4 linked regions of the Homo sapiens genome follow. The protein of the gene in region 4 interacts with the protein of the main gene of each other region in a pairwise test. Each region holds a gene or a part of one and is shown on either strand. Other genes may lie near its edges. The genes, in order: SLC38A1, C2, MAL and SLC10A1.

Evidence for each region.
Region 1: the proteins of SLC10A1 (region 4) and SLC38A1 interact in binary tests that used the Homo sapiens proteins (3 or more experiments, as listed by UniProt).
Region 2: the proteins of SLC10A1 (region 4) and C2 interact in binary tests that used the Homo sapiens proteins (3 or more experiments, as listed by UniProt).
Region 3: the proteins of SLC10A1 (region 4) and MAL interact in binary tests that used the Homo sapiens proteins (3 or more experiments, as listed by UniProt).

The regions. Positions count from the first base shown.
Region 1 is NC_000012.12:46,258,796-46,266,937, forward strand, and holds part of SLC38A1 (sodium-coupled neutral amino acid symporter 1), read right to left. Parts: intron 7,722-8,142; exon of another isoform or gene 7,651-7,721; intron 1-7,650. UniProt on the Homo sapiens protein: Symporter that cotransports short-chain neutral amino acids and sodium ions from the extraccellular to the intracellular side of the cell membrane. The transport is elctrogenic, pH dependent and driven by the Na(+) electrochemical gradient.
Region 2 is NC_000006.12:31,923,370-31,931,506, reverse strand, and holds the start of C2 (complement C2 isoform 1 preproprotein), read right to left. Parts: upstream 3,791-8,137; 5' UTR 3,755-3,790; coding exon 3,709-3,754; intron 3,553-3,708; coding exon 3,343-3,552; coding exon of another isoform or gene 3,315-3,342; intron 2,776-3,314; coding exon 2,590-2,775; intron 1-2,589.
Region 3 is NC_000002.12:95,028,206-95,036,347, reverse strand, and holds part of MAL (myelin and lymphocyte protein), read right to left. Parts: intron 1-8,142. UniProt on the Homo sapiens protein: May be involved in vesicular trafficking from the Golgi apparatus to the cell membrane. Plays a role in the maintenance of the myelin sheath, and in axon-glia and glia-glia interactions.
Region 4 is NC_000014.9:69,774,317-69,780,784, forward strand, and holds the end of SLC10A1 (hepatic sodium/bile acid cotransporter), read right to left. Parts: intron 5,045-6,468; coding exon 4,866-5,044; intron 4,214-4,865; coding exon 4,017-4,213; intron 2,073-4,016; coding exon 1,966-2,072; 3' UTR 1,100-1,965; downstream 1-1,099. UniProt on the Homo sapiens protein: As a major transporter of conjugated bile salts from plasma into the hepatocyte, it plays a key role in the enterohepatic circulation of bile salts necessary for the solubilization and absorption of dietary fat and fat-soluble vitamins.

The sequences.
Region 1 (8,142 bases), on a different chromosome or scaffold from region 4:
GGCACATGCCACCATGCCCAGCTAATTTTTATATTTTCAGTGGAGATGGGGTTTCACTATGTTGGCCAGGCTGGTCTTGAACTCCTAACCTTAGATGATCCACCTAACTCAACCTCCCAAAGTGCTGGGATTACAGGCGTGAGCCACTGTGCCCAGCCAGGGTTTTGGATTTTTGGATTAGGGATGCTCAACCTGTAATATTGTATTATATATATGGGATTTTTGCTAAAAGAGTGGATTCTAGGTGCTCTTGCCACAAAAAAGAAGTGACCACGTGAGATGATGGATATATTAATTTTCTTGACTCTAGTAACCATTTTACCACGCATATGTATACCAAAACATCACGTTGCACACCTTAAATACATATAATTTTTAAAGCGGAGAAAGTGTTAAGCCTAAGGTCAACAATGGTTCTATAATTCCGGGCCAGCTAGTCCCATAACTGACTGTGTCTGTTTACCCACTTGGGGTTCTTGGATCCTCAGGGTTCATAGATGATAGTGATAAGGATCTAAGAACTAACATGGATCTATATTTCAAAAGGCCTCAAACAGGCTAAACAGGTTAACTAAATGGTGAGGTATCCATACTGTTAGCAAGGCTTCATTAACTTGATGTGATAATCCTAAATTTGATTGGCAATTTTATATACCTTTGAGTAATAAAAATGGGAAATGAATTAATATATTAAAGTCAACACTCAAAACTCATTAAATAGTATACTTAATATCTGGACACTGCATTGCATATAATTTATACTTTAATTAAAATAAAAAATTAAAGCCGATCATCAAAATCTTTGAAAATCTGGGGCTTTTGGAAGGTGGGGAATAATAAAAATGGCCTTTGGTAGTGAAAAACCTGGGAAGCTAGTAAGTGGTCTCAGAAAAATAAGTGGTTTTACTCTCTTCTTGCCCAAGACTAATGGTTTAACCTGTGCTTAAGGTCCTGGCTCTTCTGCTAGGACCTTGTTTCTCTACTTCCTCTCTCTGCCTTCCCTTCTTGACATCCATCATCCTCAGAGCTCTTTATCTGGAACATAACTCTGTCTAGAACCTTGAACTATCATCACACCCCTCTCTTTACTGCTAGCAGTCTCTAAACTACTTGCTCCTGCCACCACTCCCCTGAAATCATGCCTGATTAGGAAATTCTGGCTCCACCACTTAGAAGCTGTGTAGCCCCAGGAAAGAAGGTTAACTTCTCTTTGCCTTAGTTTCCTCATCTGTAAAATGGACTTAAAGCAATACCCATCTGATACAGTCATAAAGATTCCATGACTTGGTCCATGTGCAGCACTTAGAACAGCGTCTGGCCCGGGTTTTGTAAATTATTGTGACCATTGTTCCTGTTTTCTGACTTCTCCCAAATAACTCCACACTGCATCCTCCCAAGACCTTCTTGGTCTCCTCTGCCAGATCCCTCCTCCTCCCAACTTTCTGTGTAGAAGTAGCTCTTTGGGCCTCGACTCTTCTTGCTCCACATATTCCAAATTCTTTCCTTTTTAGGGCTTCAGGGCTGTAGTGTCAAGTTTCATTCTACAAAGGCATCTTTCAGATCTTTCTTCCCAGTCTTTTTCACTTTATAAAACTAGAATTCCTTTGCGTTATGAAATAGGATCTCCCTCATAAATACAACTTGATCATGATCATGCCACTTAACATGTCACATGTTTCTTCATCTGTAAAATGAGAGGGCATGAAAGAGAGGTTATCTCTCAGGTTCTTTCCTTCTCAGAAACATTTCCATAAATTCTTTTCAGACTCCTGCTGCCTTCTGGACTGCTCCATTAGGATGTTTATCATTACCTCAGATTCCACATGCCTGAAGCAGAACGCATCACCTGACCTCACATGCCAGCATTCTATTTCTGTTAAAGATATAATGCACCTTCTCCTTGTCACTCAGACTTGAAACTTGAGTATGGCTTTCATACAACCTCATATCTAATCAGTTGCCAAGTCCTGCCAACATTCCTTCACAAAATCCTTTTCCTTTCCCTTATTCCTTACAGTTTCACAGCCTGAACTTTGCCACAGTCACTCTCCGCCACGCTACCTCCTGCTTCTTGCCCTCTCCCACCTATAGAGGCAGATTCTTCCTGAAAAGACAGTCTTGCACATTCCTCTTTCTGCCTTGCCAATCATAACTGTTCCCTCTACAGGATGAGGTCTAATCTCTAGAACCTCAGACAGCTTTCTCTTTAATTTATGCTCCCACTATATTCCTTCTAATTTTCCATTCCTGCAATGGGTCTACTCTTATGCAGTTTTCTGCTTTGTTCACACCATCCCCCTGATCCTGGACACACCCTCTCCACCTTCCCATGAAGCCTATGCTAACTTAAGTATGACCTTTCTTTCAAAGCCCAGCTTGCTTGCTTTTTTAAAAAATTCAAGCCAACTCTTCTGTGATGCCTTTCTCCAATGACCAACGCAGGCATTGCCAAATACCTCCTGGGGGCAGGGAGAGGGACATAATTGTTCCAGTTGAGAACCTGCTTGACTGTTTACCTGTGATGAATTCTTACAGCAGTTTCGTGTAGATTACTCACTGGCTTATAGCAAGGGGGCTCATATTTCAGTAATCTTTTTATTTACAATTTCAATTCCTTGGGGACAAGGACCATACATCTCAAAGGTCTAGTATATGGTGACAGTAAACACATGTTAACAATAAAAATGAGGACTAAATTTAAAAAGAAAGCTATGATCACCTGCCTGCAGACAATATATTCAGTGAGCATCACAAACACCATCTTCCCATGGAAAACAAAACAAAAATGGGAACATGAAGCAATGTGGATAGCCCTACCTCATAGTTTTCATTAAGTTTACCACCTGATCTCCTTTACATTTGATCTGGGCGTGTGGGATTTATGTAAAAATGCATTTAGTATTGTAAAGAACTATATAAACGGAAGGTATTTATCATTACTGTCCCAGCCACTATGCTTGGAATGTTTAAGAATTCTTGGCATGATTTCTAAAAGTCCAGAGAAGGAGTTGTATTAAAGAAGTGGTTCTCAACTGGGGACAATTGTGTCCCTCTCCCTGCCCCCAGGAGGTATTTGGCAATGCCTGGAGACATTTTGGGTTGCAGTAAGTGAGGGGGTGCTGCAGGCATCTAGTTGAGAAAGACCAGGGATGCTGGTAAACATCATACAATGCACAGGACAGCCACACACAACAAAGAGCTGTCTGGCCCCAAATGCCAGTAGTGTGAAGGGCAAGAAGCCCTGTGTTACAGAAGCTCACAGGGGATGAGTATGGACCCCCTCTTTGTGGGGCATGGAGATGAACCGCTAACTTCCTTGGACAAATTGCCCAGTGCATCCTATCTTAACAGGATCCCAAAACCTGCTCTTAATCGTTCCATAATTCCTCTTGTCTTCAAGTTCCCATATGATCTTTTAAATGTCTGTTATCAACATGACCAGCTTATGATGTTGGTAACTAACCTATCTATATCAGAAATTTTGAAACAATTCCAATTTATTCAAGACAGAAAAAATAAACTCTAAAGTTAATGAAGTCAACCTATAACTGGATATAGGAGGACAGACTGTATATTACATTTAAAAAAAAAACACCAAAAGAATTGAATCTTAATTAATTAGAACAGTGAGTGTATATGAGTAGTGTGAATACCAACAAAATTAAAAATATTTCTTGTCAATTGAAAATTAATGGATTTAAATAATTACTAAAAACTCATGCAGTTGAAAACAGCCTGGAATATTTCAGCCCTTGAGAAAAATCTCTTTATTTGCATATATGTTTTTTGTTCTAAAGATATTTCTGATCAAGGATTGCTATTGTACTAAAAAAGATGGATACAGTTTTGTGTGTTTGTTTTTAAGCCCTAGCTAAGTTATGACTCCTAACAAAATACTCAAGGAAAAACAGAAATAATAAGAACTTTAAAGCATCACAAAGTGCTGCATATAAAGAGGATCATTTATAAAAAGAAATCTTAAAAATAGACTTTTATTTGAAAAGAGAAAATGTAATAAAAGACACTATATAATTCAATACCAGATGATGGTTACAGTCTCAGAACAATTCCTTTCTCCTCTCTGGGTCTCTGTCTCCTCACCTTAAAATAAGAAGATTGGATTAATGGCTGCTCTCTCAAAGACCTCTCCCAGTTCTCTGAATTAATGATTCTATACACTATTTCTTAATGAATCACTTCCAAAGATAAGAAGGTGGACTTGTAGACAAATCTCTTGAATAGTTGCCTTTGTAGGCCAATAGGCCTCAGTTCTAACAGGACATTGGAACAAACTGGGGAGCTTTAAAAAAATAAAAGTGATAAGGGGACACTACACACACAACAGTCTCTGACTTAATTGGTATAGGACAGGATCCAAGCATGGTTATTTTAAACGCTCTCCAGAGGAGAGCATTCTTATGTGCAGCCAATGTTAAGATCCCCAGATTGAGAATAAAAGTTAAAACAAAAGAAGCTAGTGCTCAGGTAGGTAAGATAAATGGGCAAAGCAGACTGGGCATAAGGAACTAGAGAACACATGTCCCATCTATTTCCCTCCAACTAGTGGCAGGAATGAGCCTGGTCTTTTTATTTTTATGTTTTTCAATAAATGCCAGAAATCAAAATTCTAAGTGAAATTCTGATATTTAAGAGTTGGCAACTAATTTCAAATAATTTTAAAAGAAAGCGTAAGTCACATAAAATATGCCCACAAGCTTAATTTGGCTCTCTAGCCACCAGTTTGCAACCTAAACAAAACCGGTTCAATAAATTAAACACAGTGTTTTCTCTGTGCTCTGACCTGTCTGTCTCCTGCTCAGAGCCTCTTTCTCCTATACCTTGGTCCATAGCCTATCCCTTTCTTTTTCCTTTCCATTGTCGCTTTCTTTTCCAACCTTCGCCATTCCTAAGAGATGGAAACTGAGATCTACACATTAAATCTTCATGTGGCTCTGGCTGTATCACTGGACAGGCGTCTATGCCTGGGAAAATTCAGGTTATAAACTGTAACCTGAGGCTGTGGCTCCATGATGTCAACAAATGGTTGGTTTAGTAAAATCAGGGGGAAAAGTCAGTCAAGCTCATAATTTCACACTACTAAGACTAAGACTTTGTCAAGCAACATATGGAGGTCCTCATTTAATTTCTGATGTTTGTTTTGTTTTCCTTGCTTTAAATCTAAACCAATGCATATCAAAATCACCCCTGATATTTTCTAAGCTCCCATATTTGGGCTCCATCCCAGGCCAACTAAATCTGAATCTCTGGAGTTGAAGTCTTGGCACTGACAGCTTTTAAAACACCCTAGATGAGTCTAATGTGAAGTCTGCTCTGAGACTCACTAATCTAAAACCATCACCTGACCCTGAAGATTAGCAGCATGCTTAATGCCAGATGACTATCATCTTGAATAGTTTTTTTAAACTTGTTCAAGGACTTTCTCAGCTCTGCTCTCATTGTATCTTCACAACTCTGAGGTACGCAGCACTGATACTATTATTAGCATTGGACAGATGAGAAAATGAGGCATAAAAATGTGAAATGAGTTGCTCAAGGGTACCCAGCTAGTTATTGCCAAAGACACATTGTAACCTCACTTGAAACAGAGTTACTTACTAATAGTAGAGGAATTCAGTGATTGGGAAGGTAACATGGTTAGGGGAACTCCTCTGTTATTAGTAAGGTTATCACTAGAAAACAAATATGTGATCAATTTTCAGAAATAAGTACAACAATATTTTTAAATTTAAAATCTTATTTTAAATCTAGGGTCAGTGTCTTTTTTTAGGTTATTGAAGTTAATCTTTTAATTTTACTTAAAATTTTTTTATTTCAATAGATTTTGGGGTATCAGTGATTTTTGGTGGTTATATAAATGAATTGAAAGTGATGAAATCTGAGACTTTAGTGCACTTGTCATCTGAGTAGTACACATTGTACCCAATCTGTAGCTTTTTATCTGGCATCCTCCCTTCCAACCTCTGGCTTCTGAGTCTCCACAGTCCATTATATTACTCTGTGTGCCTTTGCATACAAGATGTCTTTTTCGAAGTCTGTCACACATTCTTCAAAGTACTTCTGTGCACATACTTCTCCTACCTCCTCACCACCTTTCATAGATGTATATTCTCCCAGAGACTAAAAAGATCCAGGTAGTTTCCATCAAGATATATTTTCAGAAAAGTATTTTTAAAAGATTACATAGTCACAGAATTTCAGAGGTAAAGGGAACTTTACTGATCAACTTTCTCTCCCTCCTCTGGTAGATATGTTTAATTCAATACATATGGAATGCTAACACTATACCAAATACTTCACATTCATTATCTTCATTAAATCTTTACCATCACTCAGTAAAGTGGGTACCACCAACACTACCACCAGCATCATCATTCCCATTTAGCAAAAGAAAAAACTGAGGCTTAGAGATGCCAAACACCTTGCCCAAGATTCCTGGGTGAGTAAGCTGAGGCCTGATATTTATATTTGACTCAGAGCCTAAGCCCCTATTCACCACCTTCCATCACCTGGAGTAACAACAGTCCAAAATGTGAAGGATAAACAAATACTTATGAAAATGCCAGTGAGGTGATCAGTGAACACTTCTCCCAAGAGGTGGAAAAGTGGCATCAGGGATAGGCCATCACAAGTACACAGGATTTCAGTAGGCATTCTGGACTGGAATCCAATCCACACAGATATTGAAGCAGAAAAGTGATAGGGAGGGAATAGGGTGAACTGTGAGAAAGAAAATATCAAGAGAAAAAATTGGAAAGAGATGAGAAGGCAGATTGTGAAGGGTCCTAAGTGTATGGCTAAGGAATTTAGACTGTATTTGTGTGCAATGGAAACCCTCAGAGGTTTTTAAAAGCAAGGTCCTTTAACAAAATGTGAACTGAATTTTAGAAATATAAACCTCATGAAAGAATGGAGATTTAATTAGGGGAGCATAACTTGATATGGAGGAGAGACCAACAGGAAAGCTGTTCCACCTCAGTAACTGGCTGTTTCACTCTTAACCATATGTTGTGCTTGCATTTTTCTCCACCGCCCACTCCCACTGCCCCTAGGTTGTTCAAGGCACCTCTATATCTGTTTCATATGTCTCCAAGTCTAGGTAAGGTGACAGGGACCTGAACTTGGGCAGTGGAAATGGAGACAAGAGGACAAGTGTGAGGGGTATTTTCAAGGGCCTGGTCACTGCTCAAAGTGGGAAGGGCAGTACGAGAAGGAGAAGCAGAGAAGAAAAAGACTCTCATTTTCAAACTTAGGAGAAGGGGAACAGATGAGATATAGAACGGAAGGGATGGCCAATAATATCACAAAGAGATGAACAAGATGGCCTGATCAAGGTCTCAAGGTCTCGATCCAACAAGTATTTATTAAGCAGGTACTATGTGCTGGACATTAGAGGAACAATGAGTAAAATCGGTTTTTGTCCACAAGCATCACCCAGAGTAAAGAAAAGAGTAGCAATAGTCAGATATCAGAAACATGGTGCTCCTTTCATTAAATGGCCTTAATTCATGAAGCATCATAAAAAATATACATAAACAACATACATATAGGTTTAAAGCTCCAAAACACCTTTAAAATCTATTCATCTATCTGTTCAATTATATTACAGTCAAAGAAGAGTGCAATAAGTACTTGCTGTTCCTTCTTCCTGTTCCTTCCGCTGGCCTTCTTCCCTCAATTATGGAAATAGCTGATCCCTTTTCATCATTCGGGTCTGAGGACAAATGTTATACCCTCACACCGCCCCTCCCGGTGAGTCACTCTATTTCAAGCATCCTCCCCCATCACATGATCCTGTTTTATTTCTTCATTGCACTAAGAATACCTGAAATGTATATGCCTACATTTATATAGTCTATTTCCCCCTGAGAACGGAAGCTTCATAGAAGGTGAAACAAATCTTGTTAGTTGCTGCCAGTCGCACAGTAAGCCCTCTGTAGAAAATGTTTATTGGCCACATTTTTTTAAAAAGCGAATAAACCTCAAGATTAAGACCTCAAACCAAACTATTCCAGTTTCCAATTGCTTACAGCGACATACTGAGAAATCGAGTGACTCTCAAGAGAAAGGCCATTTTGAGGCTGGGGTCGAACCAAAATCCAGGGGGTCCACACCAGGTCAGTA
Region 2 (8,137 bases), on a different chromosome or scaffold from region 4:
TGCTTTGTTAAACAGATGCTTGAAGGCAGCATGCTCCTTAAGAGTCATCACCACTCCCTAATCTCAAGTACCCAGGGACACAAACACTGCGGAAGGCCGCAGGGTCCTCTGCCTAGGAAAACCAGAGACCTTTGTTCACTTGTTTATCTGCTGACCTTCCCTCCACTATTGTCCTGTGACCCTGCCAAATCCCCCTCTGTGAGAAACACCCAAGAATGATCAATTAAAAAAAAAAAAAAAAAAAGAATGTTCCTAGAGCTTTACTCCTAATGGCCCCAAACTGGAAATAATCCAAATGTCCATCAGGAGGGGAATGGATAAATTGTAATATACCCATATAATGGAATACTACACAGCAATAAAAAAGAACAAAGTACTGATACACACAACAGCATGGATAAATCTCACAGGCAGAATATAGAACAAAGGATGCCAGAAGCAACAGACCACATCCCGCATGATTCCATTTACAGGAAATGTAAGCACAAGGTACCTAGTCCATGGAGACAGAGGTCAGAAGAGCAGTTACCTTGTGGGAGGGGACAAGAGGGAACCTCATTCTGTCTTGGGTGGTGATTAGATGAGTGGATGCATTGTAACAAATCATTGAGCTGAATAGTTAAGATTTGTACATTTTACAATAGGTAAATTATGCCTCAATTTTAAAATAAGTTAGAGTCACGTCTAATAATTCAAGCATTACTTATCACAGTCTTACCAGGCATCTACTTCACCCTCCTACAGAATAAATGGCCATTTGCCAAAACCCAAGGGCATGAGTGGGGATCCATGGTCTGGGCCACTAGGTGAAGGTGGTCCTGCCATCTTGTGGACTCCGTGTCTTCTGTATGATGTGCTAAGAACCATGATCCAAGAAGCTCCCAAACCCACAGGCAAATGCAGCTCCAGGGAATCCTAGGAGCCCTACTTCTGCCAAGCAGAGCCCCTCACCATTCACAGGGGCAGCAATAACTATGACAAAAGTGCTTATGGCCAGGTGTGGTGGCACATGCCTGCATTCCCAGCTACTGAGGAGGCTGAGGTAGGAAGATCACTTGAGCTCAGGAGTTTGAAGCCAGCCTTGGCAACACAGCGAGATCCTGTCTCTTAAAGAAACAAAAACAAGGCCGGATGCCGTGGCTCACGCCTGTAATCCCAGCACTTTGGGAGGCCAAGGTGGGCAGAATCCCCTGAGGTCAGGAGTTTGAGACCAGCCTGGCCAACATGGAGAAACCCTGTCCCTACTAAGAATAGAAAATTACCGAGGCATGGTGGCGCATGCCTGTAATCCCAGCTTCTTGGGAGGCTGAGGCAGGAGAGTCACTTGAACCCGGGAGGCAGATGTTGCGGTGAGCTGAGATTGCGCCATTGCACTCCAGCCTGGGCAACAAGAGCTAGACTCCGTCTCAAAAAAAAAAAAAAGTGTACATGGCATTTATCAGATTCCAGGGGCTGTTTTTTTTGTTTTTTGTTTGTTTGTTTGTTTGTTTGTTTTGAGACAGAGTCTCACTCTGTCACCCAGGCTGGAGTGCAGTGGCACGATCTCGGCTCACTGCAACCTCTGCCTCCCAGGTTCAAGTGATTCTCCTGCCTCAGCCTCCTGAGTAGCTGGGATTAACCACGCCCAGCTAATTTTTGTATTTTTAGTATAGACGAGGTTTCACCACGTTGACCAGGCTGGTCTCAATCTCCTGACCTCAGGTGATCCACCCACCTCAGCCTCCCAAAGTGCTGGGATTACAGGCGTGAGGCACCGAGGCTGGCATTTTTTTTTTTTTTTTTTTTTTTTGAGACAGAGTCTTACTCTGTCACTCAGGCTGGAGTGCAATGATGCAATCTCGGCTCACTGCAATCTCCACTTCCTGGTTCAAATGATTCTCCTGCCTCAGCCTCCTGAATAGCTGGTATTACAGGCATGCGCCACCGCACCCGGCTAATTTTTGTATTTTTACTAGAGACGGGGTTTCACCATGTTGGCCAAGCTGGTCTCAAACTCCTGACCTTGTGATCCACCCCCCTTGGCCTCCCAAAGTGCTGGGATTACAGGCGTGAGCCACCGCACTCCAGGGCTGTTGTATATGCTTACTAATGTCAACTCATTTAATCCAGATGGCAATCTCAGGTCAGCACTCACTATCCTTGTCTTACAGATGGGAAAACTGAGGGCTAGAAAGGTTAAATAGCCTTCCCAAAGTCTGTCAAAGTCAGAGTAGGGCTTGGAACCCAAACCTGGCTTTAAAGGCAAGGCATTAAAGCACAGTACTTGACTCTCTCCCAGCATATCTTCCCTACAACAATCTGTGGGGCCTGAATATGAAGTCTTGCTTTGAGGCACTTAGAAAAGCCAGGCAGAGTGTGTGGAGGCTTTATGCTACATCTGAAGCTTAGCACCAGCTGCCTGGGGCCTGGCCCTTGCAGACTTGTGATGTGTGACCTGTAGACCTCAATTTACCAAAATCCAGGAATATTATTATGGCACACTGAACAACAGACTCCTATCCCCACAGAGGCTTCCTGGATGCACATTGGGCCCCAGGGTTCCCCAGGAGACCCCAGCCCCCTGTGTAGCCCATCAGCCAGAGAACTCACCCCCATTATCACACACAGCTGTTTCTCCATCCCACATGCCGTTGGGGCGACACTGACGCACAGGCGAGCCCCGCAATATGAAGCCATCCTCACACTCGAAGCTCACATTGCCACCCACGGGATAGGACCCCAGCCGTGGGGTATAAATGCCATTCTCAAAGGAGACAGGGGCTGGACAGCGCACAGCTGGAGAGAGAGGAAGTGGGTGGGGAATATAGGACTGGATGGATAACACCTGGGCTGGGGATTAAGCAGGTGATTTTATGCTGGAATGCATGGGAATGGTCAACTGGCTGTCAAAACACTGAAATATTAGGTTGCAACATGTGAAATTGCTGTTTTTGGCAACTGATTGAATATTGCCAATTTCACAGAGTCTAAGCGAACTGATTGATAAATAGCCACTTCCCTCAGTCTCCTGAGGGCCGTGGCCTCCCCAGACACTCCCCTTGGGATCCTCAGATGTCTAGAGGACTCCAGGACCATTCAGCATCTGTTCTGAATGGTCACTACTAGGCAGTCAATTGTACATAAAAAGTCATCCCTGGCTTTAGTACCCCACAGTCTCCATCAAGACCTGTTCCCAATTCCTTGCTACTGGCAATTGACATTTTCTGGATATTTTGAAAAGCCCTCTGCAAAAGCAACTTTGCCATCTAGTCAGGTTAAGTCCCACCCTGAGCAACTCCTAAACAAAAGTTCTGGGGTGGCCCCTGGTGTAGCACCCTGAGCAAAGCCCACAGGGAGCCTCACGTTTGCAGACCGCCTTAGACAGAGACCGGGTGGCTCCTGGGGTCTGCCACTGTCCGCTGCTCTTGCACAGCCGTGATGCTGGGGATGGGTACAGGCCCTGGGGGCAGGAGTAGGTGAGAAGGCTCCCAGGAGCCCAGCCATGGCTGAGGGTGAAGGTGCCACCCGAGATATTCACGTTCTGAGGGCAGGAGGGAGCCGAGTCTGCCAGACCTAGAGCCGTGGGAACAAGGAGACAGCAATGGAGAAAGAAGGAAGACACAGATGAGAAAAGGAAAGCAAAAGAGACTGTTTCACACATGGGAATTCAAGCTGGGAGCACCAACCTCACACACAGGACCCTGACGTTCCCCCTTCCCTGCCTCCTACCTGGGTACAGGAACAGCAGGCAAAAAAGAACCATCAGTGGGCCCATGGTGTCCTCCCTAGGGGCGGCGAGAGGTAGAGAGCCGCGGGAGGGAAAAGGTCATCTGACTTCCCGAAAACTAGAGCTGGGTCAGCAGCTGCTTCATTGCTGCCAGAGAAGAAAAACCAGGGAGTGGCAAGGGGGATGGTCTTCTGTTAGGGAAATAATAAGCAGGGATTGGGGACTGAACTGAAGGGTGAAACCTTTGCCCTGTCTCCCTGATGCTAATATATCTATAGGGTCAATAGATCTCCCCCACAGGCTTTGTGTACTGCCCCCACGCTCCACCCACCCATGCGTGCACATGTGCACCATACACGCATGCTCACAAACACGCAGGCAAACACATATTTGGGCTCGTGTGTGCACACATGCACCTTGCTCTTGTGTGAATAGTCAATAGTCTAAAGCACACAAACCCACAAACCATCCAAGATATTGCAAAATATTTCATTTAAGTAAAGTTTTAGTGTTCTTTTGGGTTGTACCAAGTGGGTTTTACTTCCTGAGAGCCTAGAACAGTTCTGTCTTCTTGAAGATAAACTTCCGAGGGGGGTGAAACTAATTTTTTTAGAACTTCTTGATAAATAGGAAGATTGACAATACTTTTTTATTCCCTACAATCCTTCCCTAGAGATAATCTAGGTGGAAAAAATGAAATCAACACTTAGTTTTGGAGACAGGAAAAATGTTTACAACATTTTTACGGAAAGTCTAGTAGATGAAATTCCCAACTGGCAAAGTAAATACATTTGGGGTTGGTTACTCAAAGGAATAAAACTTTTGCGGGGGCTGGGATATGCCTTTAAATCATAACCTACACTTGTATGAAATGCAGGAAGCAAAGAAACTTGAAGCTAGTGTGTTAGTCTCCCTGACCCACAGAAGTCTTTTCAATACCTTTTTGAACAATGTAGGGTAAAAATAAATAAGACCAATAAAAAAATGAACATGAAACCTCTCTGAAGTGATCATTTAGGTTCGTAAAAACCCTTTTGATTTATAAGTGAGTCCTTAGAGAACTGATTGAACCTAGAAGATGGAGGTTGCAGTGAGCCAAGATTGTGCCACTGCACTCCAGCCTGGGCAACAGAGTAAGACTACATCTCAAAAAGAAAAAAAAAAAATAAGACCGGGCACAGTGACTCACGCCTGTAATCCCAGCATTTTGGGAGGCTGAGGCGGGTGGATCATGAGGTCAGGAATTTGAGACCAGCCCGGCCAACATGGTGAAACCCCGTCTCTACTAAAATTACAAAAAATTAGCCGGGTGTGGTGGCAGGGGCCTGTAATCCCAGCTACTCGGGAGGCTGAGGCAGGAGAATCACTTGAACCCGGGAGGCAGAGGTTGCAGTGAGCCAAGATCATGCCACTGCATTCCAGCCTGGGTGACAAGAGCAAGACTCTGTCTCAAAAAAAAAAAAAAGAGTACACAAATTGAGACTCCCCTTGGACAGGGCTAAGTGCATGAAAATCAGGACATCCTGGTGTTAGGGACTCCAAAGTGGCTGCTGTGGCAGAGCTGCTAGTGCCTCCCCTGCCCCTCAAGTATCTTTTCTCCCTCCTTCCACAGTAAGAGATGGTTAGGGGAACACACAGTCACCCAGCTAAAGACCATATTTCCTAGCTTCCCTTGCAGCTAGGTAGCCAGGTGACTTGGTTCTGGCTAATGGGATGTTAGTAGAACTTATGTATGTCATTTCCAAGTTATGTCCCTAAAATAAAAAGGCAGTGTGCCTTTTCTTTTCATGGGCTGGAATATAAACCTAGCGGAGATCCGTCTTCCACCAGGAGGATGAGGGCAACATGCTGGGGATGACAGAGCAAACAGACAGAGGAGCCTGGGTGTCTGACACAGTGTTGATGTCATACCAGCCCTGCACAGCCACTTAGATTGTTACAAGAGAGAAATAAACTATCGTAAAGGTGGGGGGTATTTAAGGATGTTCACAAATACTGTAGCCTTGTCTTCTTTCAATCACATGGTAGGATAGGATTTCCCCAGCCACTTGTTTTAGCCAATAAGATGTGAGTACAAGTGATATGTATCACTTCCTGATGGAAGCTCAATGTAGTCTTCACCCTGCTCTTCCCCTCTGTATGGTAACGTCTGAGATGGTGGCTGCTCCACCAGCCAAGATCCCTGGGTGATATCGAAAGCACAGTACCAGCCGGGCACAGTGGCTCACACCTGTAATCCCAGCACTTTGGGAGGCCGAGGCAGGGGGATCACCTGAGTTCAGGAGTTAGAGACCAGCCTGACCAACATGGTGAAACCCCATCTCTACTAAAAATACAAAAATTAGCTGGGCGTGGTGGCATACGCCTGTAATCCCAGCTGCTCAGGAGGTTGAGGTAGGAGAATCGCTTGAACCCGGGAGGCAGAGATTGCAGTGAGCCGAGATCACACCACTGCACTTCAGCCTGGGTGACATAGGGAGACTCTGTCTCAAAAAAGAAAAAAAAAGCGCAATACTCGGCTGACTCTCAGTGGATAAGTAATATGACCAAAAAATAAACCTTTGTTATTTTAATTCATTGCATTTCTACTAATGCAGGAAAAAAAGTACCCACCCAATATGTAGGAAATTTAAAAATGATTTATTCTTTCTCATATTGGCCAGAAGGTTCTTCTGCTGATCTTCCATGCAGCGGCAGTCAGCTAGGGGCTGAGTTCAGTTAACAGTAGGACAGCAGGTCCTTCCTCCCTAGCCCTCATAGCATGGCAGTCTCAGGACAACTTCTGAGGAATCCAAAACATAAGCTGCAAGGTCTCTCGAGGCCTAGCCCCAAAAGTCACATAACATCACTTCTGCCACATTCTATTGGTCAAAGCAAATCACAAGGTCAGCCCAGATTTAAGACTGGAGGCATAGAATTTACCTCTTGATAGGAGGAATGGCAAAGTCACACGGCAAAGGGGCAGGCACATCAGAATAGGAGAGACTGATGGCTATATTTTGTAAGCCCTCCTATGGCAACAAATATTTCTAGGTTGTTGGTTACCAGAACGTAATGAAGCCTAACCTGACTGAACATTCAAATCACTAAACTTTGGGTGCCTTTTAAAGCCATCAAACTAATATGTAACAGCTGCCTTCAAAAGAAAGGGCCTTTCTTTCATGAGTTTTTCCCAGTATTTGTTGAGCTACATCAACTTGGCACAGTGTGGCAGAATTCATTCTCTCTTCCTGCTTAAGTAATAAAACTCCCAAGTTTTCTGGGCCCACAGAGTATGTTCTTAAGGAGAAGTGTTTACTCCTCAATGTATAAAACTTCTTCCCTTCCCACCAGCTGGAATGTGGACAGAATGGTGGACTCTGGAACAGCCACCTAGATCACAAAATGGAAGTCACATGTGGATGATGATAAAGAAACAAAATTAAAGAGGCCCTGCTCTCCAATCCTGTAGAGCTAATAGGATTGACCTGGACCACTTATGCTCAGACCATTTAAGCTGCTGTTATTCTAGCTTGGTTATAACAAAGCCAAACCATGTCTAACTGATATACCTAGCAAGAAATCAATGTGAGAGCCAAAGGCAACACTCAGAGAAGTGTGTTTATTAGGATACACGTTAAACTTCTGTAATAAAGAGACCCTAAAATACAGTAACTTAAATAAGATAGAATTTTGCTGCACTTTCAAATAAGAGCCTCAGAGGCCGGGCGCGGTGGTTCACGCCTGTAATCCCAGCACTTTGGGAGGCCGAGGCGGGTGGATCACAAGGTCAGGAGATCGAGACAATCCTGGCTAACACGGTGAAACCCCGTCTCTACTAAAAAATACAAATAATTAGCCGGGCGCGGTGGCAGGCGCCTGTAGTCCCAGCTACTCGGGAGGCTGAGGCAGGAGAATGGCAGGAACCCGGGAGGCAGAGTTTGCAGTGAGCTGAGATCGCGCTACTGCACTCCAGCCTGGGAGACAGAGCGAGACTCCATCTCAAAAAAAATAAATAAATAAGAGCCTCAGAGGCCGGGTGCGGTGGCTTACGCCTGTAATCCCAGCACTTTGGGAGGCCGAGGCGGGCGGATCACGAGGTCAGGAGATCGAGACCATCCTGGCTAACATGGTGAAACCCTGTCTCTACTAAAACTACAAAAAAAAAAAAATTAGCTGGGTGTGGTGGCGGCGCCTGTAGTCCCAGCTACTCGGGAGGCTGAGGCAGGCGAATGGCGTGAACCCGGGAGATGGAGCTTGCAGTGAGCGGAGATCGTGCCACTGCACTCCAGCCTGGGTGACAGAGCAAGACTCCATCTCAACAAAAAAAAAATAAAAACAAAATAAGAGGCTCAGGGTAAGCAGACAAGGCTGAGATGGCGTGTGTGGCCCTGGCTGGCAGAGCTGCTCATCAGCCTCCTTCAGGCCTCCAGCTTCCTTCCATCTGTGGTT
Region 3 (8,142 bases), on a different chromosome or scaffold from region 4:
AGTTGGCACAAGATCCCCACCTGAGCCCATGAGGAGAGATCGGGGGAGGGGTCCGAGATTCTCTGGGTGGTGACCCTCTCCCTGCATCAACTGAAAAGGCAGATTATTGGGAGTCTGACCCCTGGGACTGCTACCAAAGAGAACCCTGGGAGCGGGGCTGGGACCTGACTTGGTTTACCTACACCAGTCACTCTCCCCTCCTGGCCTCTTCATTAGCAGGCTTCTTCCTCCCAGAGGGACCCCTCATGCCATCATCACCCCCAGCTAGCCTTAGACAGTGTTCCTTATCTAATCTGAAGGCAAGAGCAGGACTCAGCGGGTTTGGATCAGTTTGTGAAGAAGGGGATAGAGATTTGGGATTAAAAGATCGAAGAGCTGTTGCTGGGCACGGTGGCTCACGCCTGTAATCCCAGCACTTGGGGAGGCTGAGGTGAGCGGATCACGAGGTCAGGAGATTGAGACTATCCTGGCTAACACGGTGAAACCCCGTCTCTACTAAAAATACAAAAAATTAGCCGGGTGTGGTGGTGGGCGCCTGTAGTCCCAGCTACTCAGGAGGCTGAGGCAGGAGAATGGCGTGAGCCCAGGAGGCAGAGGTTGCAGTGAGCCGAGATCATGCCACTGCACTCCAGCCTGGGCGACAGAGCAAGACTCTGTCTCAAAAAAAAAAAAAAAAAAAATCTAAGAGCTGAGTGGAGGGCCATAGTTTATATTAACAAGGCAAGTTGGACTGGGAAGAGCCCCCTGTTCAGGCTTGCAATCTCACCCCCCTTGAGCCCCAGGGAAGCCTCTCCCATAGCACACGCTGCCAGCAGGACAAAGTGACTGCTGACTTAACACCCACCTCCCTCATGAGCTAGAGGATGGTCACTAGTTCCTGAATGCACAAAAACTCCTCTCAGATCCACAAATCTAGGGGCTTTCTGATAGGCATGTCTTCATTTGAATGGAAAATTCTGCCTACCACATCTACACCTGCTGGCCTTACCCAGCAGGATAAACAGAAACCAAGAGGTTCTGTGAAAATACTGGGTAAGCCACCTGTAAAAGGCAAAATCCGTGGAAATGCTGGACCAGACAGGAGTGGCTTAAATGCAAGAAAAACAAAAGGGATTTATGGGAGTCACCAGGTAGGTTAGTAATGTGAACAAACCAACAAAACAGGTGTACACCTGCCAGAGGCGACAGAAGGCTGCCCGCCCAGGGTCTGGGAGGGTCCAAGGGAGATGGAACTCCCAGAGTCTCTTGGGGACTGGCAGCCTTTGTCAGTTTCACCCTCTGTCCGCCTTTGAGGTCAAGGACTCATCTTATGATTCATCAGTGTTAGGTAGGTGAGAGAGGAGACCCGAGCCCCTTCCCTACCGATGCTTGCTGAGAACAAATGTTTCAGAGTTCTTGATCTGTGCCAGGGATGTGGGCAGACTTAGGGTGTAGGCACGAGACAGACAATAAGCAAAGGTCTGCAGGATGTGCTCTGAGTGCCAGGAAAGGGTGCTAGAAGGGTGGGCTTCCCGGTGGAGGGGATGGGTTAGCTCGGGCCTAAAGGGTCACCTCCAACAAAGAAGCATTCCCACTGCTGCCCCCAACCTGACCACAGATGGAGATGAAGGAGGTCTGTGGCTGGTTTTAGAAATAGTCCTGAGACCCATAAGCTCGGCGGTTCCTTTCCTGCCAGGCCCCTCAATCCAACTATGCCCTCCTGCCAAGCAGCTGGGGGCCAGGATGGAGGCTGGGGGAGGTGAGGGCACAGGTTTTTGCCAGAGGCTGCCCCCTCCCTGAACTGATGCCCTTGCATACAGCCGACACACTGACACTGATGACAAATCGCTTTTGAAAGCTTTAATCTGAGCCTGCTGATAATTCATTCCTACGCCTGCGGGCAGATGTAGCTATGTGTCACACTCAGAATCCACAAAGCTCTGCCTGCCCATCTTGGCACCAGGCTGGCAGGGTGATGCAGAGAGGCTTAGAAAGCAGCCTGCTCCCTGGGCAGAAGGCAGGCTGGGGCTGCCACACTGTCCTCCACCCCTTGGCTGCTCCATCAAGCTCTTAGCTGAGGACACACTGACCTCTGCCCTCAGTTGTTCCTTCTTGGTGAGAGGAGAGCCACTGGGAAGGCCCCAGGAAGGTGGTGTCTGTGCAGGACTCGGTGACTCCAGGGAAAAGTCAAGTGTGCCCTCCACAGCCTGGCCCAATCCCAATCCTCATGCAGCACCTGCCTGAGAATGGAACAGAGGGCACCTATGGCAAAGGTGATGGGGGCGGGCCTTGCGGACCCTGCCATCGGCACAGGTCGGCCAGTTGGTTTCAGAGCAGATGCTTAAATTATTAGTCAACTAATAATAACAGCACTTGATAGCTATGGGGCAGTAGCTATGTGAGGCAGGTGCTGCTATGTCCAAATTTTACTGATGCAGAAACTGAGGCACAGTTACCTGCCCACGTTCCCACAGCTGCCGGGTGCTCCTTTGATGAGCTGGCTGAGGCCCAGATCCAGGCCCCCATGGGTGTGACAGTTACCTCTTGTGTCTAGGGTCAGCTTTGGAAATGGCCATGAGATTTTTGTTTTGATGACAGGTTCTCACTCTGTCACCCACACTGGAGGGCAGTGATGCGATCACAGCTCACTACAGCCTTGACCTCCAGGCTCAAGCAATCCTCCCATCCCAGCCTCCTGAGTAGCTGGGACTATGGGTGCAAGCCATCATAGTTGGCTAATTGTTTACATTTTTTGTAGAAATGGGGTCTTGCTATGTTGCCCAGGCTGATCTCAAACTCCTGACCTCAAGTGATCCTCTCACCTTGACCTCCCAGAGTGCCAGGATTACAGGCGCGTTAACATGGAGCCTCCTCCATGTTAACTAAGTGGCGAATAACCACTTAGTCTTTAGGCCACTCCCAGCCGGCTTCTCCCTCCCTGGCCCGCCACTGAAACAATGAGTCTCAATATCCTCTGTTTCTTCAGAGGAAAACAATAGCAAGGTTTGTGTTTAAGACACATACAGCACAAGATGAAATGCCAAAGGATCCCGCTCCCTCTTCGGCAGATGCAGGCCTGTAGTTCAGTCTGAAGAAGAGGGAGGGGCTGCCATGCAGACCCCACCCGCCCCACTCCACTGACAGGTCAGGGAACGTCATCTTCTGTCCTTCCCCGTGGCCCTATTCCTGGAGTGCCCACCTCCCGGGCCCCCCGTGGGCCTCCCTCCAAGTTGGTTCTGGGACCTTCACTTTCTGTCTCCTCCCCCTGCCCTTCCAGCCCCTCCCCTCCCAGCCCACTGCATTCTCACAGGGACTGGAGGCTGTGGCCAGGAACTGCAGGTCAGTGAGGCTGGCTGTGCGACCCTGCACCTTCTCTTCCCGCTGCGGAGGTGCTGTGGCTGGTGACAGGCTTTCCTTTGATTTCCTACATATGTTTTGCAGGACCCAGGGCCCGGGTACATTAAAATGATTCACCCAATCCTGGCATAGAACACTAGCTGTGAATGAGGTAGCAGCGGCAGAGAGCCTGGGGAGAAGTGCTGCAGAGAAGCAGAGTGTGGCACGTTCATGACCCCAAGAAGGGAAATGGCTACACTGCTCATGCCCAGCTAGGAGCTCACTGGGTATCAAACCTTTCACCAGGGTGTCAAAGGCAATTTGGAGCCTTCCAAATTGATGAGAGACCACGAGGGACCTGCTCCATGCTCCATGCCCTTGGGAACAATCTGAAAGCTGTGAGAAGGAGCTGGCCACACACCCCAGAACGTTCCTGCTTCAAGGACAAGGGGCACAGTCCCCCACTGTCCTCACACCCATCAACACCAGGAGGGTACACCCTCTGGGGTGTCCTATCAGCACCTGTCCCTGAGGCCTGCTGGTCCAAAGCACCATGTCCGGCACTGACACTGGAGGGGCCAGGAGGAAGCCCTGGAGTGGCTTAAGTCAGCCCCCAGCCCCTTCTAGTTCAAGTCTGGCTGGCTCTGTCCTGTGTCAAGGCAGGTCCCAGGTGGTCCAGTCCCTACTCCCAGCCCCTTCTCTGGAGAATGTGTCTGGGCCCAGGACAAAGCCAAGCCACTGCTAAGGCTGTGCAGAGCTAGTCTGTGCTGGCAGCACAATATGCTCTGCCCCTCGCCTGCTGGTGTGGCGAGTATAGGTGCAAAATTCAGCCCTTGTCCCTGGCCGACCTGAGTGTGAGCGCTGCTGGCAGCAGCATCGTGGGGCTTCCTACTCACTTCTGAAAGCACTGGGACAGAAAGGGTGCCTTTGCACCAGTTCTGGCATTGCCCCATCCCTGTGAGGTGGGGGAGTGACTTATGAAAAGCTAAAAGGCAATCTTTTAAAATATAGCTCAGGTGTGATGACACATGTCTGACAATCCTGTGGAGATGAGCCCCATCATCACACTTAGCAGTTTCCAGGGAGCAGCTCAAAGTTACTGAGTCCTCACCAAAGCCAGCCTCTGGTCTTGAAAAACCAGAAAAGTCACTTCTCCACCAAACCCCTGTGAAATCTCTGTCTAGAACACTTCTCCTCCCTTTAGAGAGGAAGAGAGGAGAAAACACGGAAGATCAGGCAGTAGCCCTCTCTAAATAGCTACAGAGAAGGGACAGAGCCAGGAGCCAGTGGACACAGTCAGAGAAGGCCAACTCAGCCACCATCCCATTCTGGCCAAGCGGGGCCTGCCCCACTCCCTGGTGCCTGTAGGAGAGGCTCCTAGCTAGCACAGCAGGGAACTTTCTCCAGAACAGAGGAGGTCCCTGGTCTGACTTGTGAGAACCTCAGAGCACCTGGCTGCTTGCCCCAGCCTCTCCCTGAGAACTGTTCCCACTATTCTATCCCCCATAAAAATATCAAGAGGGTGGCCTGGCCTCGAGATGTCCGCTCCAAGTCTCAGCCAGTCAGTGGAGGGTGTGCAGTGCAATGCGGGTTCTTCAACCTGCCCTGGACCTCGTGACTCAGAACCTGCAGGGTGTGTTTTTGACAAGGAGACCCAGAGGAGGTGTGAGCTTCCCAGTGGTCCTGAGCTGTCCCTTCATTCCTGTTGGGGGAGAGAAGGGACCAAGCCTTGCCCAGAGCTGCCAGGTGGGCAGGGCTGCCTACTCAGGATCCCAGTGTGCCTTCTAGTGCAAGCAAAATCTCGTGTGGCTGATTAGGTGAAAGGAGAAGCCTGGGCATGATCTGCTCACTGCCAGAAGTGCTCACTGGACCCTGGAGACCCGGTGACCCAGGCAAGTTGCTCCCTGTCTGAGCCTCAGTTCCCTGCCAGCTCTGAAAGTGAGGTTTCTGTCATTCTACGTCTCTGGTCTCCTAGGAGTTCCCATGCCACCTTCTCAGTGCAGCCACAGCTTGGACCACCTAATGCGAAACTGCCTCGCTGGCCCATGGCCCAGTCCCGGCTCTGTCGGGCTGGCTATTCCCCAGCCAGGTAGAAATCTAGCAGAAGTCCCCAGACCTCTCTGGTCACTCTTAATAACAGTCCAGTCACTTTGGGTCACAGAAAAGGTGTCATTTTAGTCATTACTCTGTCCAGTTCACTGTAACTGTCAAAACTGCAAACTGATTGCGGGTGTCTCCCCACCCCAACCCCAACCCGTGATGTGACTGCACTTCTGTTCGTGTTTCTGAGGCACAGAGGAGGAAGGGCATGCCCCTGGAGGGCTGGGCGGCATTCCTCACACCCTCACTCACAACCCTGCCTCCTTTGTGGCCTGGGGAGGAGGGGGCTGAGTAGATGATCTCACAACCCTCTTCAGGCACTTCCTTCACAAGTCCTGAATGGGTAGGGGGTCTCTCCTGGCACTCTGTGGGAGACCTCGCATCTGGGGGCCCCAGCTGAGACAGAAAGCCTTCCCTGTGAACCTTTCATTCCCTGAATGGTGGCCCAGTGTCAAGGAAGTCCCTGGCTTAGAATGGAGACGGAGACAGAGACAGAGAGTGGCTCCAAAAGGAAAAGTTCCTCACTGGGTGGGACTTTTGCAGGGGAGCAGACGAGAAGCAAAGCCCTGGGTTTTGTTGGAGGAGGGGAGAGCATTGGCTATTTCACCCTTGGCCTATATGGGGCTGCACTGATGACCACACCACCTGCAATAGGGGCACAGCCTCTGTGGCTCTGGAGGTATTTGGAAAGGCAGTCTCACTTCCTAGTTGGGCCTGCCTTCCTCTTCCTGTGAGGACTCTGCAGCTTTCAGAGGTCAGGAGGTCTGGGATAGGGGTGCTGGGCCAAGGAGAGGTTGCTATGCCCCACCCTGAGCTGCCACCCTCACTTGCTCCAGTGGGCAGTCCCCTCACCATGGAAGTGGCGCTCCACCCGGATCAGCTTGGACATCTGCGCCTCCCAGGCTGTTGGGAGGTCAGGCATGGGAATCTGAACTATGAGTCATCAACAACTCAGTGGACTACAGATTTAAAAAATAATCAAGCATTTCACACCCATTGGACTAGCAGAAAATTATAAAGTCTGACGCTACCAAGTGATGAGGAACAATGGCGACTTTCATGTGCTGCTGGTAGGGGCCGGGGAAGGTCCAGGTTTAGCCTGAAGCTTAAACAATCAGGAGGACCATCTTTATAAGAGAATACAAAATTAGGCAGAGTCTTGGAAGGGGCTTGAGTAAGTAGGGGTCTTGAACTTAATTAAACATCAGCTTCCCAGTAAATCTGCTCCTGGGGTGTGTAAATTGGAATTACTCTTTTGGACGGCAATGTGATAACACCTGGGAAAATGACAATGTGCATATCCCCTGTGACCCAACAAGTCACATCCTCCAAGTGTCTCTGGGAGACATTTCCAACAGGTAACTACAGAGGCAAATATGAGAATGTTCTTAGCAATGCTGTCTGCAATAGCTAAAGGCAGCAAATTGGAACTATCCAAAGTGTCTATTAACAGAAGACTGGGTAAACAAAGTCAACATGTATAAATCTCAGAACATAATGTTGCCTGGAAAGCATGTTGCAGAAGGATACGTACTGTATGCTGGCATTTTCATAAAGTGCGAAAACATGTAAAACAATGCCATGTGTAGTTCATATGTGTGCAGTAAAAGTCTAACCTGTGCTTGGAAGTGAACACCACATTCAGCCTACAGGTGGCCCTGAGGACGGAGGGAGAGAGAGAATAAGATAACAGAAGGATGTCTAGGAGGCTTAGATGCCATCTGAAAGCTTCATTTCCTTAATACATAACAGCAAACAAGGCAAAATATTAAGATTTGACAAAGTTGGGCAATAATTATGTAGGTGTCTGTTAAAGTATTGTATATGTTCTTCTGTGGCATTTGAAATATTTCTATTTTTTGTTTTTTAAACTTGAGGTGAAATTCACATATCATCAAACCAATCATTTTAAGTTGACAGTTCAGTGGCATTTAGTACATTCATGGTGTTGTGCACCCACCAACTCAATCTAATTCCAAAGCATTTTCATTACCCCCAAAAAGAAACCACATAGCGATTAAACAATTGCTCCCCTTGGTCCCTGGCAAACCACCAGGGTTTGTGTTCTGTCTCTATGGATTTATCTATTCCAGTATTTTATATAAACGGAATCATACACTATATGACATTTTGTGCCTTGTGTCTTTTGCTTAGCATAGAGTTTTCAAGGTTTATCAACTTTGTAGCACGTATCAGTACTTCATTCCTTTCTATGGTCAGGTAGTATCCATTGTTTGGATATGTCGCACTTTGTTATTCAGTTCATTGCTGATGGCCACTGGGCTGTGTGTTATTGTGAAGACTGCTGCTATGAACATGCATGTGCCAATACTAAAGTCCCTGCTTGGAATCCTTTGGTTATATACCCAGGAGTGGAATTGCTGGGTCAGAGGGTAATTTTTTGAGGGAACACCAAACTGTTTTCCACAGTGGCTGAACCATTTCACATTCCCGCCAGTGGCATACCAAGGGTTCCAATTTCTCCACATCCAATACTTGATGTTTTCCGTTTTTTGGATAGTAGCCATCCTAATGGGTGTGAAGTGGTATCTCATTGTGATTTCTTTCTTTCTATTTATTTAATTTATTTACTTATTAATTTATTTTTTTGAGACCGAGTCTCACTCTGTTGCCCAGGCTGGAGTGCAGCGGCATGATCTCGGCTTACTGCAACCTCTGCCTCCCAGGTTCAAGCGATGCTCATGCCTTAGCCTGCTGAGTAGCTGG
Region 4 (6,468 bases):
GTATTTTTATTAGAGATGAGGTTTGACCATGTTGGCCAAGCTGGTCTTGAACTCCTGACTCCAAATAATCTATCTGCCTGCCTTGGCCTCCCAAAGTGTTGGGATTACAGGTGTGAGCCACTGTGCCCAGCCAAGAATTAAGCTACTTTTAATCTTAGAGGTGTTAGGGAGTACGATAAATTCCTTCTTTTGAAAAAAATGGCAGGGAGATAACAATTATGTCTCAAAAAGGGACTCTCAAAACCAGGCTTCAGATACCATGAGGAGTGTGGATGTAATCCTAAGGAAAGGTTTAGGACCTGCCTTTGTAGGGCATGGTTTAACCTTTGTTTTCTATGTTTATATTAGTTTCATCTTTATTCCTTGCTTTTTTTTTTTTTTTTTAGACAGGGTCTTGCTCTGTTGCTAGGTTGGATGGAGCGCGGTGGTGCTATCTCGGCTCACTGCAACCTCTGCTTCTGGGGTTCAAGTGATTCTCCTGCCTCAGCCTCCCGAGTAGCTGGGACTACAGGTGTGTGCCACCATGCCTGGCTAATTTTTGTATTTTTAGTAGAGATGGGGTTTCACCATTTTGGCCAGGATGGTCTCAATCACTTGACCTCATGATCTGCCCGACTCGGCCTCCCAAAGTGCTGGGATTACAGGTGTGAACTACTGCATCCGGCCATCTTTATTCCTTTCTAAGAATGGTTTGAGGCCAACCCTGTCTTCCTCAAAAGCTAAACAAATGTGTTCTTACATAACTTGTATGTAACCAAGTCTCCTAGCAGATGATGTTGGTTAGATAATAGAGAAAACAATTTGAACAGGTAGGTATATATGGATATAATAAGTAAAAATGATAGGTGGTAGCCTTGTCAAAAATCTGCGTTTTTAAGAGGATGTTAGTAACCCAAATCTGTGTTTCTCGTTTTGGTGTTGGGAGTACTTGTTAGTCCTGCACATTTGCCAAACTGATACCCGAAAACTATATTGTCTTGGTTTCATTTGTACCTGACCATACAAAATGATAAAAATCCCAAGTAACTAATAAGCATGATTGACTTTTTGTAATTGTTAATATTAGTTGTTAATCATTTACTTGATCCTTATTTACATATGATATGCAAAATGTTTAAATTTTATTAGAGACAATTTGAAATTTGTGAATTCTAGGTATTTGAACATTTTTCTTTGAATTGGGAAACGACTCATTTTGGCAGTAGTTTGCTGTACCCAGTTTTGGGGGCGCCTTGTGTTAAAACCAAATACCTACTGAACTTAAAAAAGAGATTATTAGTGAGGTAACATTGTGTTAATGTATGTGTTTGTTTCCTGGTTTTTCCTTGTCAAAAGTTTTCCTCCTCTACTAACATGATGCATTCGCCCAGTTTTTTCATTTCATTAGCTATTTTTTGAGTTTGTTTTGCCTGATTGCATCTTACTGTGTTCACTTTTGCATACTTGATGTCAAATTTGACTTTTCGGGAGCATCATCCCAATAATGTCAAAAGGGAAGGAATAGGATCTGAACTTTTTAGGTTAGAACTTCTGAAGTTTAATTCTACAGCACTTGTGAGCATTTATTTCTCTTTTGGGTCACAAAACTTGGAATGGGATTTGGGTATTTGAGTAATGGGTTAAACATATATATTGATTAGTTCAGGAATTGAGTGACTTTAAGATGCTTATCAGACACTTTTAGAGATCCCAGCAAGAGGCAGATTCGGTTTCTGGTTTCATAGAGTTTACAGTCACTGAACAAGTCTTTAAAATAAGTAGCAAATTCTAAGTTGGGGATAGGTGAGGCTTCTTGGGTAGACACCCTGTCTGTGTTCCCGGCCAAGACTTGATGATTCTGATAGATGTACTGGAAATGCTGGAGAAAGACTCAGGCAAGACTGGTGTTTTTGCTGCTCTCTCTAGTTTACCACACTGGCTTTCAGAATTGCTTTGGGACCAGAATCCAGGCCACCAGGGGAAGGGCTAGGCTGTGCAAGGGGAGCAGTCCTCCCCTTTGTAGGTGCCATTTCCCAGAGCTCCTGGAATTGTTTCTTCAGTTGTGGCAGCTGTGTAGATCATTTTTGTTTTATCTGTAAAGTTAAAAAGGGTTACAGGTGTAGAGAGAGAACAAGAGGAGTGAACAATGAAGCTTGTTTAATCTGGAAAGTACAAAAATACCAACTCAGCCCTAGAGTGTGCTAAGTATATATTTTCCATCTCTGTCGTCTCTCCCATGGTTTACTCTTTAAACTCACTTTCCCCTCAGTCTCCCTAATGGTAGTACTAGTAGTAAAAGTCCTAATGAATTAGACTATTGTGTCTTCATCATCACTTCACTTCTAACTTCGTTATACAGTAAAACAACAGGAGATGAGTTTATGTATGCAAGGTCTGTGTTGCATTCAGGGAATGAGGAGGCAGGCAGGAAAGATCTTCGAGAAAGTCTAACCAAGAGAGTTTCCAGTTCTTCCCTCCAACCCCCAATTGATCTACCTCTTCTTGTCCGTGGTGTAGGCGGTGATGCAAATTTGAAGATAGCTTTGATTCCTGCACCTTTCTATACAGATGGGAGAGTTCTCTATACAGAGTTGTTCTCCCATCAGGTGCAGGAATGAAAAGTATAAAAACTTGACAGATTCCTCCCCCCTGAGAATAGCTTCTTGGGGCCATTAGGTCCAAAGAAATACGTTGCTTTGATTTAGTGTTTCCACTGGGGTCTTCTGAGATACACTGTGAGGAAAGTTCTTTTCAAGTCTTGAGAGCTAAAGATCCATAGAGTATTGTCCTTTGAGGTCACTTCAGGTCTTTCTGGTACTAAAACCTCAAATCTGGGAATTTGGTTGGTCTAGAAACTTCTGTGCACTTTTTGTAAGAGGGCAGCAAATCTCTTGCGTTCCTCTCAGATAAGCATCAGAGTAGATTCTTTCTCACAACTCTACTGTAGCTTTGAACCAAAGCTTCTAAAATGGTTCTAGTGTATGGTCAGCCTGTACTTGTTTCGTGTTGGCTGCTTGGCAACCTAATTACATCTTAGCTAATTGCAAAGGGAGAGAGAATCGGCATTTGCTTGCTAGTATAATGTAACAAATTCCAATAGGGAAAGTTGTGTATTTCTCCTAGGGTGTAAATCACAGTCCCTAGGGTCTAGAAAGGTTTTGAAGGGGACTTCAATTCATGGACATGAAGGGACAGTTGAAGGATTTGGGTAGGTACTTAGGAAGAATATACTAATGTTGAGAGTTATAATGAAATGTGTTATAAAGTGGGTTTGAATGTCCTGTTTTTTTTTTTTTTTTTTTTTTTTTTTAAAATTGGTGTTAAAGTGCACTTTGAGGAAGGCACTCTGTTCTCTGGTCTGTCTTGAGGTTCAATTTTATTTTGAAAGGTAATACTCTGAGCATTTTAGAGAAGAGATGCTATGTTAACCCCATAGTGATCAGAGTAAAGTATAAATCATATTAAGTTTATTGTGGAGGTAGTTACTGTTTAACAACCGTATGCTTAAGTTTCCTTTACTGCGTAACTAGAGTTGAGGAATCTTTTTTTTTTTTCTTTATTCTGGGTTATATTAGGGTGCATTGCTTTCATATGTTTTTCCTCATACGGAGGTGCCAGTGGTGCTGTGGCTCTGATCTGGTTCCAGGAAATGAGAACCTAGTCCTGAGAAATGGAAACTTCCCCAACTCTTGCGAATAGAGGCCTTTCACACAACTAATAACCTCAGTTGTCCAAGGCAGTTTTGTCCTATGATGTCTCCCCACTGAGACAAAGCAGCCCAAATTGCTTCAGTTTTATGAGGTAAACTGCATCTGCAATTTCATTCTCCCAGCTAGAAGGAAGAAATGGAGTGCAGTTGATGGAAGTAGTCTTGGATCTTTAATGCTTCTTGGGTGCTTCTTGGGGCTACCTGGTTCTTAGTGACTTGATAAGAGTTAAAGCCCTATCCAAAAAGTCCCTGCTAGAAACTTGCTTGTTGGCAGGCTCAGGTCTAATATTGGAGCAGAACTTGAAGTGGGGATAATTTCAGTACTCACCCTTGGGAGTCTTGAATTTCTCATAGCACCAAAATATGGCAATGAGGAGAAGCCCTTCTCCAAGCTGGAAAATCATGTAGAGGAGGGGAAAGAAGAAAAGTGGTCCAATGACTTCAGGTGGAAAGGCCACATTGAGGATGGTGGAACAGAGTTGGACATTTTGGCATCCAGTCTCCATGCTGACAGTGCGTCTGCACCTGTGCCGGTGAAGAAAACCCCACATACACTCAGAGGGAACTGGAGGGAGCAACTTTGTCCCAGTGCTGCTACCAAAGAGTTTCGCAGCAGATGGAATCTAGACCCTGGACAGGGGTACTTTGCTATTGCTGCTGGTGTTTGGATACCTTTGGTGTCTGGATTTTTAACCCGTTCAATACCTTCATTCAATTTTTTTCAAGTCTAAAGTCTCTTGTCCAGTTAGTGCATCTGAACATATTGCCAGGAAAGTGTCTTGCCCAGATTTCAGGTTCCTAGCTTCTTATTCGTTTCCTGAAAGACTAGGACAAGAATGAAGCCCATGGGACAGTGGGACCTAAAATAATACCTATCTCCAGGCATGCAGTGGCTCACACCTGTAATCCTAGCACTTTGGAAGGCTGAGGCAGGTGGATCACTTGAGCTCATTAGTTCAAAACTAGCCTGGGCAACATGGTAAAACCCTGTCTCCAGAAAAGTTAAATCAGCTGGTCATGGTGGCTTGTGCCTATAGTCCCAGTTACTTGGGGGGCTGAGGCAGGAGGATCAGTTAAACCCTGGAGGTTGAGGCTGCAGTGAGCTGAGAATGTGCTACTCCCCTCCAGCCTGGGCAACAGAGTGAGACCCTTTCTTAAAAAAAAAAAAAATACCTACCGTCCATTGAGGCAGAAGAGAGCAGAGAGAACATAACCCAGCAGAAAGCCAATAAAAGGCATCAGGGAGGAGGTGGCAATCAAGAGTGGTGTCATGGCAAACATGATGCTCTTCCCCACATTGATGGCAGAGAGAACTGTGACGGCCACACTGCACAAGAGAATGATGATCATCCCTCCCTGGGAATGAAGACAAGAAAAGGCAATTAGAAGAGTTGGGGATAGAGAGGAACAGAGGTGGGGAAGCACAGGTAGAAATTGGAGGTGGGAAACATTGCAATAAAACACTGGAAGTGGAAAGGAATATGAAAGACCTTTATCTTCTTTTTGGATTCCTTTCTTTAAATTTTTTTAAAATTATTAACATTAGAGACAGGGTCTTACTATGTTGCCCAGGCTGGTCTTACTCCTGGACTCTTAGCGGTCCTCCTGCCTTGGCCTTCCAAAGTGCTGGGATTACAGGTGTGAGCCACTGCACCCAGCCCATCTTTTTAGATTTCGTATCAGTAGCTAGGAAGCTTGGGGACAGCTGATTAACACTTTGATTATTACAAACTCAGCCAAGCACAGTTACTGCTTTTGACACATCTCTGGATAGCAGACTTTCAGTGAAGTGTTACGTGAGGCTATTCAGGACTCCTGCAAAATGGATATTATTTAAAAGTCAAGTATTTTTGGAACTTATATACACATTCCTACAATACTGTCATTGTTCCACATACTTTGAAACTCATGAGAACTTGTCATACATATTTGTCTCAAATACCTTGATTACAGATAGGGATTTTATCCATTTTAGGATCAATTCTGGAAATTGCCAAGAGTCATTTGAAACAAAGCTGGTAAACAAGGTGGATGATCAAGCCCGGAAATACGGTTTTAAACCCAAAATGATGTCTAATAATAAGGGGACAAACCTACTTTCTTGAGTGACCTGCAAATTGAATATGAAGGAAGTTCCCAAAAGAACTTTCAGAAATATCTTGGGTGATAACAACATCATTGGAAACTATGCAGGTCTACTCTGAATGAAATTATAGGGTTTTTCATTGTGCAACATAGGATGCAACCTTTCAAAGTGCATGTGCACTCCATGCACTTTGTACTTTCCAGTGTGCATTTTAGAGAATTGCGTCCTCCAAAATGATAAACAGGTATGTGTAAATTTAAGACTGTCCCTTTTATCTCCTGAGTAAAGAAATACTTAACTTTTCTCAAACTTACCATGTTATTTTGTAATAGTTACATGTGTTGGTTCATTTTTTGGTTCATTCACATGTGTTGCATTTTATATTTCCTAGTAACATTTTAAAAAAGTAAAATATGTATAGCAAAGTTTGCCATTTTAATCACTTTTGAGTGTACAGTTCAGTGGCATTAAGTACATTCATAATGTCCTAACGACATTTTAACATTTATATTGCTCAAATTTCAGCTGCACAGCTTTGTGTTTCTGTTTTTAATACTTGTTGCAACTGATATGATCATATAAAACATCACCTATACCAATTAGTGGTCCTATCCCAGCATAGGAAGGACTTTCACACATCTCTTGAATAACCATGTGCTTCAAGTTTTATTAAAAGACTTATTAGCTAATGAAC